4 linked regions of the Homo sapiens genome follow. The protein of the gene in region 2 purifies or fractionates together with the protein of the main gene of each other region. This does not show direct contact. Each region holds a gene or a part of one and is shown on either strand. Other genes may lie near its edges.

The links. The genes of interacting proteins can lie anywhere in the genome.
Region 1: the proteins of DAZAP1 (region 2) and MPI fractionate together in Homo sapiens (co-fractionation; one large-scale study listed by BioGRID). This does not show direct contact.
Region 3: the proteins of DAZAP1 (region 2) and TKT fractionate together in Homo sapiens (co-fractionation; one large-scale study listed by BioGRID). This does not show direct contact.
Region 4: the proteins of DAZAP1 (region 2) and SNX3 fractionate together in Homo sapiens (co-fractionation; one large-scale study listed by BioGRID). This does not show direct contact.

The regions. Positions count from the first base shown.
Region 1 is NC_000015.10:74,893,042-74,896,864, forward strand, and holds part of MPI (mannose-6-phosphate isomerase), read left to right. Parts: intron 1-96; coding exon 97-279; intron 280-3,110; coding exon 3,111-3,284; intron 3,285-3,823. UniProt on the Homo sapiens protein: Isomerase that catalyzes the interconversion of fructose-6-P and mannose-6-P and has a critical role in the supply of D-mannose derivatives required for many eukaryotic glycosylation reactions.
Region 2 is NC_000019.10:1,409,675-1,415,104, reverse strand, and holds part of DAZAP1 (DAZ-associated protein 1), read right to left. Parts: coding exon of another isoform or gene 5,026-5,430; intron 1-5,025. UniProt on the Homo sapiens protein: RNA-binding protein, which may be required during spermatogenesis.
Region 3 is NC_000003.12:53,224,700-53,228,522, forward strand, and holds the end of TKT (transketolase), read right to left. Parts: intron 3,661-3,823; coding exon 3,577-3,660; intron 3,451-3,576; coding exon 3,357-3,450; intron 2,180-3,356; coding exon 2,057-2,179; intron 1,233-2,056; coding exon 1,057-1,232; 3' UTR 13-1,056; downstream 1-12. UniProt on the Homo sapiens protein: Catalyzes the transfer of a two-carbon ketol group from a ketose donor to an aldose acceptor, via a covalent intermediate with the cofactor thiamine pyrophosphate.
Region 4 is NC_000006.12:108,215,718-108,219,540, forward strand, and holds part of SNX3 (sorting nexin-3), read right to left. Parts: intron 1-3,823. UniProt on the Homo sapiens protein: Phosphoinositide-binding protein required for multivesicular body formation. Specifically binds phosphatidylinositol 3-phosphate (PtdIns(P3)).

The DNA of each region.
Region 1 (3,823 bases), on a different chromosome or scaffold from region 2:
TTAGGGCTGGGATGGAAAGGTGTCCTCCAACTCCCCACTTGTGTGGGTTCCATCTTACCATTCCTGATATGGGCCCTGGGCCTTGCCTTCCTGTAGAGGTGCCTGAGTTTCAGTTCCTGATTGGAGATGAGGCAGCAACACACCTGAAGCAGACCATGAGCCATGACTCCCAGGCTGTGGCCTCCTCTCTGCAGAGCTGTTTCTCCCACCTGATGAAGAGTGAGAAGAAGGTGGTGGTGGAACAGCTCAACCTGTTGGTGAAGCGGATCTCCCAGCAAGGTGGACACAGTTATATTCCTGGTTGGGTGCAATGCTCTGGCCTGGGCTTCCCAGCAGACACCAGACTCTGGGGACAGTTCTCAACCCCCTTGCCCAAGTGGAACACTAAAAGGGGCCCCACTTAGATGACCTGTTGGCAACTTAGCATTGCTTGCCTAGTCTTTGTGGAGCAGGGCCCTTCTTAGTTGAGTGCTGCTTCCCAACTGGTCATCTTCTCCAGATGGTTGGAGGCAGACTGGCATAGAGGACTCTTAGGATGCCTTCCACCTAGGCATTCTGAGATTTTCCCTAGCCCTGCAGCTGCCCTCCATGGATGGACTTGTATCTCGGGGCTAAAGAGGCAGGAAGGGGACACGAGCATCCTCCCTCTCCTGGAAAGGACTGATGCCTCCAGCACTCAGTCATTTGATCTTTCCTTTACCTTCTGTGTGCCCAACCTTGTGCTAAGAAGAGTTCAGGAAATGACTGTGATGGGTGTGGTCACTGTCACCCTAAAGGTGGGGAGTCAACACAAGCAGTAAGAAACCCAAAACAGAACAGACTCCCAGCAATGAGCTTATGTGGTGCAGGCGATGAGGTCTCAGCTTCTTAGCCTGGCAGCCACAACCCCTTCTCTAGGTGGCCCAGAGCTCTCTTTTTATTTTACCTCTACAGGTTTCCCATTACCTTTGAGCCTTAGGGCATTATTTATTTGACCCAAGCATATTTTTTTCTGTTCAGTGTGTGTGTGTGTGTGTGTGTGTGTGTGTGTGTGTGTGTGTGTGTGTGTGTGTGTGTGTGTGTGTGTGGTCTCTTTCTGTTGCCCCAGGCTGGAGTGCAGTGGTGCGATCTTGGCTCACTGCAGCCTCTGCCTCCCGGGTTCAAGCAATTCTCCTGCTTCAGCCTCCTGAGTAGCTGGGATTACAGGCATGTGCCACCACATCTGGTTAAGTTTTTATATTTTAGTAGAGACGGAGTTTCACCATGTTGCCTAGGCGGGTCTCGAACTCCTGAGCTCAGGCAATTCACCTGCCTCAGCCTCCCAAAGTGCTAGGATTACAGGTGTGAGCCACCACGCCAGGCCCCTTGCCTCACTTTAAAGAAGCCTGGCTGGGCACGGTGGCTCACACCTGTAATCCTAACACTTTGGGAGGTTGAGGCGGCCGTATCACTTGAGGTCAGGAATTCAAGACCAGCCTGGCCAACATGGTGGAACCCCATCTCTACTAAAGATACAAAAATTAGCCAGGCGAGGCAGAGGTTGTGGTGAGCCTAGATCATGCCACTGCACTTCAGCCGGGGCAATAGAGTGAGACTCTGTCTCAAAAAAAAAAAAAAAATGCTGGGCATGGTGGTGTGTGCCTGTAATCCCAGCTACTCAGGAGGCTGAGGCGCAAGAATCACTTGAACCCAGGAGGTGGAGGTTGCAGTGAGTCTAGATTGCACCACTGCACTTCAGCCTGGGAGACAGAGCAAGACTCCGATTCGGAAAAAAAAAAAAGAAAAAGAAAAAGAAAAAAAATTTAAAAATTAAAGAAGTCCACCCTTGCCACTCTACCCAGGCTGAGCTCATTTTCCCTTGTCGTTTCCAGGACACATTTTGGCCCTCAGCGCATTCTGCCTCATGCTCTCTGGAGCAGACCGAGAGAGATTCTCTGAGACATAGAACTTTCTTTTTTTTTTTTGAGACGGAGTCTCGCTGTGTCACCCAGGCTGGAGTGCAGTGGTGCAATCTCGATCACTGCAACCTCCGCCTCCCGGGTTCAAGCGATTCTCCTGTCTCAGCCTCCCGAGTAGCTGGGATTACAGGCACGTGCCACCACACCTGGCTTTTTTTTTTTTTTTTTTTGTATTTTTAGTAGAGATGGGGTTTCACCATGTTGGTCAAACTGGTCTCGAACTCCTGACCTCGTGATCCGCCTGCCTTGGCCTCCCAAAGTCCTGAGATGACAGGTGTGAGCCACCGCGCCCAGCTGAGACACAGAACTTTCAGTGCTAAAAACTAGAAAGTCGCCGGGTGCGGTGGCTCACACCTGTATTCCCAGCACTTTGGGAGGCCTAGGTGGGAGGATCCCTTGAGTTCAGGAGTTCGAGACCAGCCTGGGCAATATAGCGACCCCCTCTCTCTGCAAATAATAAAAAACTTAGCCGGGCATGGTGGCATGCACGTGTGGTTCTCGCTACTCAGGAGGCTGAGGTAGGAGGATTGCTTGGTCCTGGACAGTTGAGGCTGCAGTGAGGTATGATCGTGCCACTGCACTCCAGCCTGGGTGACAGCGAGACCCCGTCTCAAAAAAAAAAAAGGGAAAGCTCGGGCATGTTGGTTACCCTTCATGAAACTCTTTTGCGTTATCTCCCTAGATTTTGAGCTCCAAGGGCAGTGGTTCTCATACAGGGGACATTTGGCTGTTGTCTGGAGCCATTTTTTGATTGTCAAAACCCAGATAGGGGTTGCTAGTGGCATCTTGTGGGTGGAGGCCAGGGAAGCTGCTACACATCCATCAGTACACAGGACAGCCCCCACAATAAAGAATTACCTAGCCCAAATGTCAGTAGCGCCAAGGCTGAGAAATCCCATCCTGAAAGGACCATACTCTAGCTCTTTTAGTGGCTAGTATAGTCCTGGGCATATGAATAGTCAAGATATGATGAAAGATGGTATTTGTATGGACTGGAGTATCAAGCAAGGCTCGACCCCCAAAGGGCTGGAGGCGTGGCCAGAAGGACAGGGCCACTTTGGCTTCTGGATTCCTGTGGCAGGGACCTTTTCCTAGGACTCCCTGGCCAATGTGGGGCTATGAACAGCACTGAGTATCCCCCTAAGTGACCTTGGGGTGCTCTGTGACCCTCAGCGGCTGCCGGAAACAACATGGAGGACATCTTTGGGGAGCTTTTGCTACAGCTGCACCAGCAGTACCCAGGTGATATCGGCTGCTTTGCCATCTACTTCCTGAACCTGCTTACCCTGAAGCCTGGGGAGGCCATGTTTCTGGAGGCCAACGTACCCCATGCCTACCTGAAAGGAGGTGAGCCACATTTCAGCAGTGAGCCCCACTGCCATCCCTGCTGGGCCCTGTTTCCCTATCTGGACAAAGGAAGGAGAAGGGTGGTCAAGGAGACCCCCAAGGACCTTGCAGCTCTGACCTCTGAGGGTTCCTGGGCTCAGCAAGCAACAGCTGGTAGGGATGATGAATGCATTTAGCATTGAACACGCCTTGAATCCTGACACCAACCCTGTGATGCCATGCTACTCTGATTTTAAGTCCTGCCAGTCAGTGTGGGAACCACAATTTGAACGCAGGCTATATTGGATCAAAGCTGTTGTTCTGTCACAGCCTTTGTATGTCTGTCCTACCTACCAGGGATTTTTACACTAAAATATGCATGTTGCCATGGAAGGATGCCACCTTTCGACTGTTGGCTGCTTATCCACACATGCCTCATGCACAGGATTCTGGGGTAGAAGTGGGAGACTACAGAGTTGGGGCTCCCCAACCCCCAGGGGTTAACATGACTCCCCTCTGACAATAATGGGTGACCTGTCACCTGTTTTTGGTATTTGATA
Region 2 (5,430 bases):
CCGGGGGGGTTAGATAACCTGGTATCAGTACTGTCTTTCTCAGCTGGGCGCAGATCACGCCTATAATCACAGCATTACGGGAGGCCAGGAGTTCAAGACCAGCCTGGGCAACGTAACGAGACTCCAGGTGGTGGCAGGCACCTGTAGTCCCAGCTACTTGGGAGGCTGAGGCAGAAGGATCGTTTGAGTCAAGGTCGAGGCTGCAGTGAGCCGTGATTGTGTCACTGCACTCCAGCAGGGGTGACAGAGATCTCATCTCTTAAATAAAATTAAAAAAAAAATAAAAAATACTCTTAAATAAAATTAAAAAAATAAAAAATACTCAAATACAATTTTAAAAAATAATAAATACTTTCTCAATTTTTTTTTGAAAAATTGTCTCGCTGTGTTGCCCAGGCTGGAGTGTAGTGGCGCGATCTCAGCTCACTGCAACCTCCGCCTCCCGGGTTCAAGCGATTCTCCTGCCTCAGCCTCCCGAGTAGCTGGGACTACAGGCGCCCGCCAGCTAATTTTTGTATTTTTAGTAGAGACGGGGTTTCACCATATTGGCCAGGATGGTCTCAATCTCTTGACCTCGTGATCCACCAGCCTCGGCCTCTCAAAGTGCTGGGATGACAGGCGTGAGTAGCTGCGCCCGGCCACTTTCTCAATTTTGATCACTGTGCTGTGTTCATGTGAGAGAATGTCATTGTTCTTGGGAAACAATAGATATCTCAGTGTACACATAAAGGGGACTGCATCGGTCTCCAGCTACTCTCAAATATTTCAGTAGAAACACACACAGTGGGGATGGGTGCACTGGCTCACGCCTGTAATCCCAGCACTTTGCAAGGCTGAGGTGGGCGGATCACCTGAGGTCAGGAGTTCGAGACCAGCCTGGCCAACATGGCAAAACCCCATCTCTACTAAAAATACAAAAATTAGCTGGGCTCGGTGGTGCGCACCTGTAATCCTAGCCACTCGGGAGGCTGAGCTCGAGGTGTACTGCTTGAACCCGGGAGGCGGAGGTTGCACTGAGCCAAGATCAAGCCACTGCACTCCAGCCTGGGCGACAGAGTGAGGGTCCATCTAAACACACACACACACACACACACACACACACACACACACACACAGTTCACTGGGGGTGGGGCAAGAGGCACCACGTGCCAAAGGGTAAAATGTCAGCCAATGGTGAGTCTGGCAGGGCCAAGAGGATATGGGAATTTTTGTAATTTTCCTGTAAGTCAGAAGTTATATATACAATTATGGTATAAAAGACTTTCATTACTGAGAACAAGACAGAATTTCAGTTTCTTTTGAAACAAGTCTCAGTCCTTATGGAATCTGAGACAGCAACAGATAGCTTTCGTTTCACATAGCTGTGTCTGGAGCTCCCCACCGCAGGTGACCCGCCCGCCTCGGCCTCCCAAAGTGCTAGGATGACAGGCGTGAGGCACCGCGCGCGGCCACACTGTGTGTTTCTGTTGAGATATTTGAGAGCAGCTTCTAACGCTAAAGCTTCCTGTGTCCATGTGTCTTTTACTACCACTCAGGAGCCACCGGCGAACACCTTCTCCCTGGTCTACAGACAGAAGCCTCCGGGAAGTCCCGGAAAGCAGGGTCATCTCTTCAGTGGCAGGGACTGCCTCCAGGGCCCTGGCACAAAGTCCCTACTTCTGAATCTCAGGATGTTTTAATCAATAAAATAAGAAAGCTCCTGGCTGCCAACCTCACCAGGTCGTGAGTGAGAAGCCGGCACATCAGAAACATGCGGAGCCCTGGGCAGGCACCTCCCAGACACTGTCCATCAACTGCCCAGGCAGCAGAACCAACTCTCACACAAGTAAACGTCGGAGTCCAGGAAGCCGGGCGCGGGCAGAGGCCAAAAGGAGGAGCTGCTGGCTCTCGTGGGCTTGCTACGGGGCTGGCGGTCCGCTTGTCCTCAGCTCCAGGCTTGCTCAGCCTGCACCTTGGCTGGCGGCGTGTGGACTGAGGACGTTAACGGGGCAAGGCAACACTGGCCTACGCAGATGAAGGGGTCGGTGAGCAATGTGGCTCCTGCACCCTGCCTCTGAGGGGCCCGCTGGGTGGGAGAGTCATCACCCAGCTGACGGCATCTCCGACACTGGAAGTCGTGGCTCCTACAGACCTCACACCCCACAAACCCAAAAGGGGTGTTCTCATTAGTGGGGGAGGCGTGGGACGAGCTCCACTTCTTCCCTTGCAACCTGGAGTCCAGCGTGCAGTCTGCCCATCAAAGGTCATGATGAACATCTCCCAGGATCTGCAAGCCTGGCACCCAGGGCCTGCAGCTCGACACCTGGCAGGTGCTCAATCCACGGTGGCCGGCGCAGCCACCCTCTTCTGCCTGTTAAAGCAAAAGCCGTTTTGGATGGCAACCTCGCTTGCTGCGTGCCATTCGGGTGCCTGTGCGGTATTTATGCGTAAAGTCCATCTGCAGAGGCTTCCTCTGGCCTAGGCTGACCACAAAGAGCCCTGACCTCCTGGCAGCACCAGAGTGGGCTTCAAAAACCGGCGGCCAGCCCGGCCATTCGGGGCCAGCAGCCTCAATGGGGGCAGTTGGCAGGCGACCTTTCCCTTCCTGCTGGGCCGGGGGACCAAGCCAGGAGGAGCCTGCCTCCCCACAGACCCCACCTGGCTCTGGGCTCCGCCAGTCACACTCAGCTCCGTGCACAATCTCAAGAGGCAGAAGTCCAGGCCCAGTGGCGGCTGATGTGTGGGGAACCCTTCTCTTCTTCCAGAGCATCAGGAAGAGCCTCTAGGGACTTTCCTGCCCCTAAGACCAGGTGGGAAACCAGGACCACTTCACCCACTGCCTCAGGCCAGTGAGCCCAGCCCGCCCCTCCATAGCCTGGACTCCCTCTCCCCAGCAGGGTCAGATGCCCCCCCTCCAGCCCACGCCTGCAGGGTGTGGGGTCCACAGAACACAGGAGCGGTCCGTGAACTGGAACGCGCTGCTGTGTGCTGAAGGAGCCCCTGAATGCCCACATCCTGGGTGCTAACTGTGGTCACCCTCATCCTCTCCCTGCCAGCCCCGCCCTCCCAGGCGGACCAGTGTTCTCCTTGGCAACGCCTGGAGCCAAGCTGGAAGCTCAGCCTATAAGCATCTGTCGAATGACTGGCCTCTGCCAAAAGCCCTGTCACAGCTCTCAGGGATTCTGACATCATGACATGGTGTCACGGGGACCAGGCCTGGATGGGAAAAGGCCTCAGTTCACAGAAGACAGCACAACCTCAGATTGACGGGTCGCACCATGAACATAGCCGCCTGACCAGGAGCGCCCTCTGTGCGGGGCGGGCAGTGGAGGAGTGTGGACTCCCAGCTCCGGATCTTCCACCCCCTGGGGTGACCCCGGGCCCATCCCTCAACTCCTCTGTGCCTCAGTCTCTCTGGCAAAGCCAAGGGTTAGAGCCAAGGCTACAAGCACAGCTGGGCACGCTGCGCGCTGCTGCTAGCTCTGGGCCACTGGGGAGCTGCTGTGTGAAGGGCAAGCGCCAGGGTCCATGCTGCTGCCTTTCTAGACACCGGCCTGCTCCAGACCATTGGAGCCAAGGCGAGCCAGTCAGGAGCACATCCACCCTCAAGGCCCATTCACAGGAATCAAAGGAGCCGACACAGGACAAGCCATAAACCACAAGGAGCAGCGGCCCCCAGCGCAGGGGCAACCAGGCCAAAAGCACAGATGCTCCCAGACAGTGGCTCTCCCCCCAGCAGGACACTGGGTGATGTCTGGGAACATTTGTGGTTGTCACGACTGGGGGTACTCCTGACCCGGAGTGAATGGAGGCCAAAGGTGCTGCCCAGCACCCTGCAGTGCCCACGGTGCCCCAGAGTGATCCAGGCCAGAGTGCTGACAGAGCCCAGGAGACCTGCCTCGGAATAACTCCAAATGCACCAAGAGAGCCCCAGAAAGGCCGGCACGGCCCCATGAGGTTCCCTATCACTCCCCGCACTGCAACAGCCTCCCCCAGATCACGGCCCTCTCTGGCCTGACCAACAATCTTGCCAGGTGCCTTGTGCTCACTCTGCACAGGTACAAGTAGTCACGGCCTCTAGGGGCCCAGCCAGGAGCCCCACTCAGGATGTCTCCTTCCACAGCCACCCAATAAACCCAGAGACCTGCCATGGGCCTGGCTCTGAGCTGCATGGCCCCCGGCCACAGTCCTGGGTATCCTCGAAGCTGCCCAGAGGCGGCTTTCTCCTCTCTCCGCTGAGTCCTTCCTCCCTCTGTGACTTTCCTACAATATTTCCAGGTGTCCCTGTCTTACCATTCCCCAGTGTACCAGATAAAATCTTCCATAAACCTCTCTCTCCAGTTCCATGACCGTGTGCTGCCTTGGAAGCCAGCAGAACACAATGGCCTGGGCGCTCGAGGTGACCCCTCTGAGCCTCTGTCCTCTCCCCAGTAGGCCAGGCATGGGCCCTATCCCTGACACCTGGTCTACCACCCAGGCGCCTAGCACCCAGCGGCTACTCAACAGGATGTGGCGACCCCGGCCGCGCTGTGTCAGCTTCCCAGAATCCAAGTCAGAGGCGCTCAAGCCAGACTTTAAGATGACTTCACAAGGCCAGGGAGGGCACACTGGAGACTCGGGCCTTCCTGATCGCGCGTGCTCTGAGCGCTCCAGGCCACCTGCTGGTGCCAACCCTCTAACCCTCCTGACAGGTCAGTGCCTGTCCCCCACCCTTCACAAGAGGACCAGGACAGGCCCCGCTCCCAAAGGAGGACACTGTCCATCACATCCACCATGTAGGGTCCGCGTGCCAAACCCACCAGGATCCAGAGAGGGACTCCCCACACCCCACCACACGTATGCGCTTCCTCCTGCATGAAGCCCCCCTCAAGCTGACTGGAAGTCGGTGTGTGTAAGGCATCCGTTATCACCGGCAGGCCTCAGCTGACTTTCATCCCCCATCAAGCTTTACATGGACTTCTAAGCCAGCACAGGGACCCTCAAAACTTGGGACGACTTCTCAGACTCAAAAGCAGAGCTTCCCCCAAGGATGGCTCCCTAACCCACCTTCCAGGTGTGGATTCCCAGGGCAGCAGCTGGACGGCCACAAGTGTCCCAGAACAGGGGGCTCCCAAGCTCCAAGTCTCCTGAGGCGTTGACCCCGCACCCATGCATGCTCCAGGCCCAGCCCTCCAAGCGGGGTCCGGCGGGATCTCCTGCCTCCTCCATGGCAGTGAGCAGTGAGGGCTCTGCATCAGGAAGAGGGAGCTCCTCAGGCTGCCGAGCCCCCCCAGTGGGTAAGGGACACCGCAGACCCATGGCGTCCTGAGAGCCGCCATCTGCCGCAGAGAGGGCCTGCTTCCATCCAAGCTCAGCACCCTCCTGCATGGCACCCACCGCACCTGCAGGGGACTTGCCAGGAGGGCGCTTCGCAGGGTCACAAGCATTTCACGCACACAACAACTCCACACA
Region 3 (3,823 bases), on a different chromosome or scaffold from region 2:
AATTGCCTGACCTTGGCTTTGACAGGTTTATTCTCTCCAGACGGTCAGGAGGACAGGTGGACGTGTCCACAAATGTGTCTCATCCTCGCAACAGCTCTGAGGATTTCCTGGGGACTCCACCAGTGGCCGGGGCACCCAGCCCTCCTCCCCCAGCACTAGTTTGTTCTTGGCCAGTATAAGGTTTTGCACAGTTGACCTTATAAGCAGGGCTGACCCCAGCTGAGCCCGAGCAGCAGGGGGAGAAATCCACTGTGGTCAGCAGTGTGAGGGCAGTCACCTAGGAACAGCAGAGCAGGTCGGGGCTGGAGCTTGGGACTGCAGAATTCTGTGTGACATCAGAAGCTCCTGGGCCAGTTGTCACATGGAGTCCCAGGCCCCATTGGCAAGACCCAGAAATCTGCATTTTAACAAGTTGAGGGGGACAGTTCCACACTTGGGATTGAGGACCTCTCATGCCATCCTGAGGGTCCCTTTTCCCCCAGGACGAAGGCTGCCCTGTCTCTGCTTCTCTGAGATGCCTAGTTAAAAGGATATGACAAGGACGAGGGACAACAAGCAAGTGAACCTCCCTATCCCAGGAGACCTGACTGCAAGGCTGTGGGGACTTGGGGGAGGTGGGGCGGCCCTGAGAGTGCCTGGTCAGCTTCCAGACTGAGGCAGTTCCCCAGCCCGCTCAGGGCCAGGTGGACTGAGGTCACAATGAGGGATGTAGGTCTCAGCCTCTCAGCTAGAAGGCAGGTTGCAGTCAAATGTCACCTGGTGATGAATGGGAGGCAGCGATAGTTCTGGAGGTTGAGGGCAGTTGCAGGTGATTCCAAGGGGACTTGGGACACCCAGGTCCTGGCCCAGGACCAAGGACACCAGCCTCCCTAGCGCACCCTCCACGCTTCTTCCCCAGAACCTGCACTGGCTGCAAACACATCAAAAAAGAAAACATTTCAGGGCCAATTCATTTTTCTCAAAACATATATTTACCCCTCCTCTCAGTACATCTTTGAGCACCTTTCCCAGAATCTCAGGAATGTATAGACCCCCGCCCCACACTTCATACCCGCCCTAGGCCTTGGTGATGAGGCCCCTCACAGCTTGTGCAATGGCATCCCTGTCGATACCAAACATCTTCAGCAGCTCAGCCGGCTTCCCACTTCTTGGTACCCGGTTAACTGCCAGGTGGGTGACAGTGATGCCAGGCTCGCCCACTACTGCACTGGACACAGCCTCACCAATGCCACCTAGAAATGAAAGGAGGGGAGTCAGAAGACGAGGCCTCAGGGTGAGCAGTGGTGGGCCCAGCCCTCTGTCAGCCTTAGTCAAGGATGGAGGAGGCTGCATATGCACTGCCTTTCTCCACCTGTAGCCATGAGCCCATCACATAACTCATTGATTTTTTTTATTTTAAAGAGACAGACAGGTATCACCATGTTGCCCAGGCTGGTCTCCCAACTCCTGAGCTCAAGAAATCCGCTGTCCTCAGCCTCCCAAAGTGCTGGGATTGCAGGTGTGAGCCACCATGCACGGCCCAGAACTATTTTTATAAGCCCAAATATGGCCTCTAAATGTTTGTTTCAAACACCATTGTTGGTGACCAGCCAGCCACTGTCCATAGTCCAATTATCTACATTTGACCCCAGAGTCAAAGCCCATCTCTCCCACTGGGGCCTCCTACTTAGAGAGGCTGGTGTGTACTTAGGGAGCCTGCTGTGTGAAGGACTCACAAATACCAGAAATTCTGCATTGCTTCCCAAGCTGCACCATAGCTTCCACCCTACACTACCTCAGGGACGCCACCATCCACCATTTAGCAGCGAGGTTGGAATCCTCACCAGCTTCCTGGGCAGCAGGAGCTCCACAGAGCTCATCAGCAGCTGTGAGTTAGCTAGGTCCCCAGGCCAAGCCTGAGGCCTTTTAAGAGACCACGTCCCAGCTGCTCTGAGGGACAGCTCTGGGTGTTCTGGGCCACAGCTGCCCTCCTGGGGCTCAGATAGAAGAGGCACGTCCAACGCTCGGCTCTCTGGCCCTGTCCCTTGCCCAGCCTGCCTGCCCCAGGCCTCCTTACCTTCATAATAATGGTCCTCCACGGTGAGGATCCTGCCCTTGGTGGCACGAGCGCTGTCGAGAATGAGTTTTCTGTCCAGGGGCTTGATGGTGAAGGGGTCCAGCACGCGGATGTTGATCTTTTCTGTGAGGGAGAGCACACGGCGTGGCTGAGGGGAGGGCTGGGCACCACTATCTGCCCTGGTGGGGGCCTGGTGGGACATCCTGAGGGCTGCGTGTAGCTAAGAGCTCAGCCTGCGGGCCTGTCCCTGTCCCAGGGAGAACCACTTGCCACCTCGTTCCCATGGCTGAGCTCATGCTTGCCAACCCCTTGCACTGGGGCATCTGGTCCAGCTGTGTTGCCCGCAGTATCCAAGAACCCAGAGCGGAGCGTGCAGGCCCTGAGCGCCTTCCCTCATCCTCCCACAACCTTGAAGACAAAGGGAATGCGAGAGAAAACACCCCAGGTGTCTGGCCTGATGGAAGGTGAGGCTTGATGTGGTGACGTTGGGGAGCTGCAGCCCGCAGAGTGATCAGAGGCCCACGTGCGGCCCCAGCAGCAGAGGCACCTTCTCAGAAGGACAAACCCACGCTTGCCAGGCCCTGCTTAAAGCTCACCCCCCTGGGTCTCCCCCTGCCTGGGGATGGACTCCTCTGGCTCCTCCAGCCCCATCTTGCTCCTGCCTGACCCTCCTCCGGCCTCCCTTCACTCTCCTCTCTGCTAATCAATTCCTACCCACTCTGAAGCCACTTTCTGGAAGATGCCACACCTGCCCCCTCTTTCGTGCTAAAACATGACATCTGCTGTGTGATTCTATTGCAGGAGAGGCCAATGCCTGTCTCCCCTACAAACCACTAGCCAACACTGTGAGCTCGCAGTAATAATAATAGAATACCAAGTCACATGCATGTAACCCTCAGGAGAGCTCTGAGGGCAAGGGGCTAGTATCTCCATTTTACAGATAGGAAAACAGGCATGGTGACAGTGAATAACTTACTTCCTTAACTAGTGCCTGGCTGAGTGATTCCAGCCCAGCTGGCAGGCTCCAGGCCACTGATCTGGCCACCATGCTGGGGGGGTCTCGACTTTAGAGTCATAGGGTAGGGACTGTGGGCACTGCAGCCCCAGGACTTAGCAACATGCCAGACAGAACAAGTGCTCAAAGGATGGCTATAATTGCTATCATTATTTAATGAAATGAAATGCTTTCTCTCTAGCTGTGAGCTCTTCAAGAAAGAACAGAAAGAACGAAAGAAAGAACCCCAAGACCTAGCATGCAGTGGCCGCTCAGTTGATGACTTTGGAGGCCCCTTCTCCTCACCTTTCTTCAGCAGTTCGGCAGCGGCCAAGGCCTCGTGCAGGGTCACCCCAGCCCCGATAACGGTCACCTGGTCATCCTTGCTCTTCAGGACCACCTGGGGGTGACACAGAGGGTGAGTAAGGCTCAGGGCCCTGGGGCAGGGTGTGCCCTGACTGCTGGGAGTCACAGCAGGGAGGGTCCAGGCAGCTCTGTGGGCTCCTGGGGCATGCGAGGCACTGACCTTGGCTTGTCCGACCTGGAAGTCCTCATTGTTGTTATAGATGATGGCATTTTCTGGGCGGCTGGTCCGGATGAAGCAGATACCCTGAGACCGAAACAGATAAACTGAGGATACAGGATGTGGCACACCCAACCTCAGAGACGAGGTCTTTCTAGAGAGGCCATCCCTTCCCATGGGAGCGTTAGTTACTGCATCCTGGCTACTCCAGCAGGGAAAAGGGCCTTGCTTGCCCTCTGCCGCCCGCACC
Region 4 (3,823 bases), on a different chromosome or scaffold from region 2:
GAGGATTGCTTGAGGCCAGGAATTTGACACAAGCCTGGGCACATGTCTACAAAAATAAAAAAAACTTAGCTGGGTGTGGTGGTGTGAGCCTGTAGTCCCAGCTACTTAGGAGGCGGAAGTGGGATGATCACTTGAGTCCAGGAGTTCAGGACTGGAGTGAACTAAAATGTCGCTGCACTCCAGCCTAGGTGACAGCGAGACCCCGTCTTAAAAAAAAAATAAATTTTTAAAAATGTTATTCTGGAGCTCAAAATACTTGTTTTGATTAAATAGCACCTAGCTATTTCACAGGTTAGTTTGGTTTCTCTACCCTAGCACTACTGAGAATCAGATAAGTTTTGTACTGGGGGGCTTTCTTGTGCATTCTTTTCTTTCTTGAGATGGGGTCTTGCTCTGTCACCCAGGCTGGAGTTCCGTGGTGCGATCATGGCTCGCTGCAGCCTCCCCCAGACTCAGATGATCCTCCTGCATCAGCCTCCCAAATAGCCGGGACACTACAGGTACATAGCGTGCTACCACGCCTGGCTAATTTTTCTATTTTTTGTGGAGATGGTGTTTCACTGTGTTGGCCAGGCTGGCATTCTTTTCTTTAGCAGCATCCCTAGCCTCTGCCCACTAGACAACATAGCACCCCCAGCTGAGACAATAAAAAATGTCTCTAGACAGTGTCAAACGTCTCCTGGGGGATAAAACTGCCTTTGGTGGAAAACCATCAATCTATCATACTAATGTCTTCAAATCAAGACCCCTGTCTTAGGCTTCTTGTGGTTATTTTAAGAAAAACTGGGCATACAACAGAAGCTCAAATATCTGTTAAATGACCAACCACTTAGCTGGATCCTTACTTTAAACGCAAACAGAGAAATGTGTAAGCAAACAATCAGAACAAGGAGAAATATATATAGTAAACTGATACATATTTTTCTTTTCACCAATAATACAAATTACACATATTCAAAAAAATTAAAACTTTAAACCCTTGATATAGTTTCTACAACGAGTTGTTTATCCTCAAACAAAATTCAATAGGGTAAAAAAGGGAAAGAGCAACTCGACTTCATATAGATTAACAAAAAACAAAATAAAAACAAAAAAACCAAATGTCCAAATAAACTTTATAATCCCTTCCTAGATTTACTCTCCTCAGATGACCAATGATGAAGATATCTATGGATTTGTCTCCGTAAATTTATGCTAGCATTCTCAGATCTCACCCCCATGTTAACATCTGTTTAGTTGAGAGTTAAAATCTGCAGGGACCTTCTATAACTGAGAAACAAAGGAATGCTAACCATTACGTTCCAGTAGAATGGCTATCTGGTGGGCAGGGAAAAATATCTGTATCTACACAATTATTATTTAAAAAAAGAATTCTGGAACCACTGTGTTAAATAAATGACCACCATTAATTCAGGGTAGAATTTAGCATGAAACTTAAGAAAAGGATAGCTCAAGGATGTCAGTTAAAGAAAGAAGGAAAATGATAAAAAATGTAACAATATATATATAATTAAATATATATAAATTTCATATATAATGGGAATTTAAGAAAAGGATAGCTATGCATTATCCTCTGTAGAGATACACTCTTCCTAACATATTCAAACTAGTCATTCAAATGGATGGGGAGGTGGTAGGCAACAGGATTAATGATCTATAAAAATCATAAATGGCTCATCCAGCTAAGATTCTCTTCTACATCAAATTATTTTTGCTGAAGCAGTCTGAAAACACCTAACTGGAATTCTAACACCAGGTTGGGTGCGGTAGCTCACATATGTAATCCCAGCACTTCAGGAGGCCAAGGTGGGTGGATCACCTGAGGTCAGAAGTTCAAGACCAGCCTGGCCAACATGGTGAAACCCTGTGTCTACTAAAAATACAAAAAATTAGCCGGGCATGGTGGTGCATGCTTGTAACCCCTTTACTCAGGAGGCTGAGGAGAATTGCTTGAGCCTGGGAGGCAGAGATTGCAGTAAGCCGGGACTGCACCACGGTACTCCAGCCTGGGCGAGAGCTAGACACCGTCTCAAAAAAAAAAAAAAAAAATTCTAATACTAATTAAAAAGTCATGAATGCAAAGATATGTGCGTGCATGTGGGGTGAGAAATAGGAGAATATCTGGTGAGCACAATATATTGAAAGCTAAAGCAAACTAGAATAAAAGCTAAAAGATCTGACCATAATACATGTCAGCTAATTTCTAGCTTAGTTTAACAGATCTTAGTTAAAAGTACTAATATACCACAAAATAACTTGATTACATTGTTCTTTGCAATACTGTAATACGAGTAAAACTTTCACATGGATTTAACTCTCAATATATTTAACTGGTCTAATGTTAAATGTGAAGTATTGTGCTTCAAAGGACAACATCAAGAAAGTGAAAAACAACCCAGAGACTGGGAGATATGTGCAAATTATGTATCTGATAGGGAACTCTAAGAGTCTTATATATTCTCGACATAACTCTATAATAAAAAGATGAACCCATTGAAAAAGGCAAAAGCTCTCAATAAAGATGTCTCCAAAGAAGATACATAAATGACCAGTAAGTATATGAAAAGAAAATCAACATTAGTGGCCATTAGAGAAATAAAAATCAAAACCACAATGCAATACCCCTTCACAAACAGTAGGATAGCTATAATAAAGAAGACAGGCAATTGGTAAGGATGTGGAGAAAAGTAGAACCTCACATTGCTGGTAAGAATGTAAAATTACACAGCTGCTTTGGAAAAACGGTCTGCCAATTCCTCAAAAGGTTAAAAAGAGTTATGACCCAGCAATGTACTGGTAGGTATATACTGAAAAGAAATGAAAACACATGCAGACAGAAACCTATGCACAAATGTTCACAGCAGCACTACCAATAACAGCCAAAAAGTAGAACAAAATGTCCACCAAATAAGTGTATAAATAAGATGTGGTATAAGCATACAATAGGATATTATTTAGGAATAAAAAGAAATGAAGTAATTGATGCATGTTAGAAAAGCATGAACTGTGAAAACATGTTAAGTGAAAGAAGCCAGACACAAAAGATCACATATTGTGGGCTTCCATTTACATATGCCCAGAATGGGCAAATCCACAGAGAAAGGAGACTAGCAGGTGGTTGCCATAGGCTGAGTGAGGAAGGGTTGGGGAGAAATCAGTGGTGTCTACTAATGGGGACAGGGTTTCTTTTATTGGGTGATAAAAATGCTCTAAAATTGACTAGTGCTCTAAAATAGTGATGGTTGCACAACTCTGTGAACATATTAAAAACCAGTGAATTATACACTTTAAATGGGTGAATTGCATGGTATGTGAATTATATCTCAATAAAGCTGTTACTAAAAACAAAAGCGGTCGGGCGGGGTGGCTCACGCCTGTAATCCCAGCACTTCGGGAGGCCAAGGCGGGCGGATCACAAGGCCAGGAGATCGAGACCGTCTTGCTAACACGGTGAAACCCCGTCTCTACTAAAAATTTTTAAAAAATGAATAAATAAATTTACAAAAAAAAGCAAAATATACACTCAGCAAACGTTTATTAAACATTTCCAGTGTGCCACATGGTATGTCAAGCAAAGCCCAAAGCCTATGTATCAAGACACTTCTCAGCTAGGTGTGGTGGCTCATGCCTGTAATCCCAGCACTTTGGGAGGCCAAGGCAGGAGGATTACTTGAGGCCAGGAATTCAAGACCAGCCTGGGCAACATAGTGAAGCCTCATCCTTACAAAAAATTTTTTAAAATTAGCTGGACATGGTGGCTCATGCCTGTAGTCCCAGCTACTTGGGAGGCTGAGGCAGGAAAATCACTTGAGACCAGGAGTTG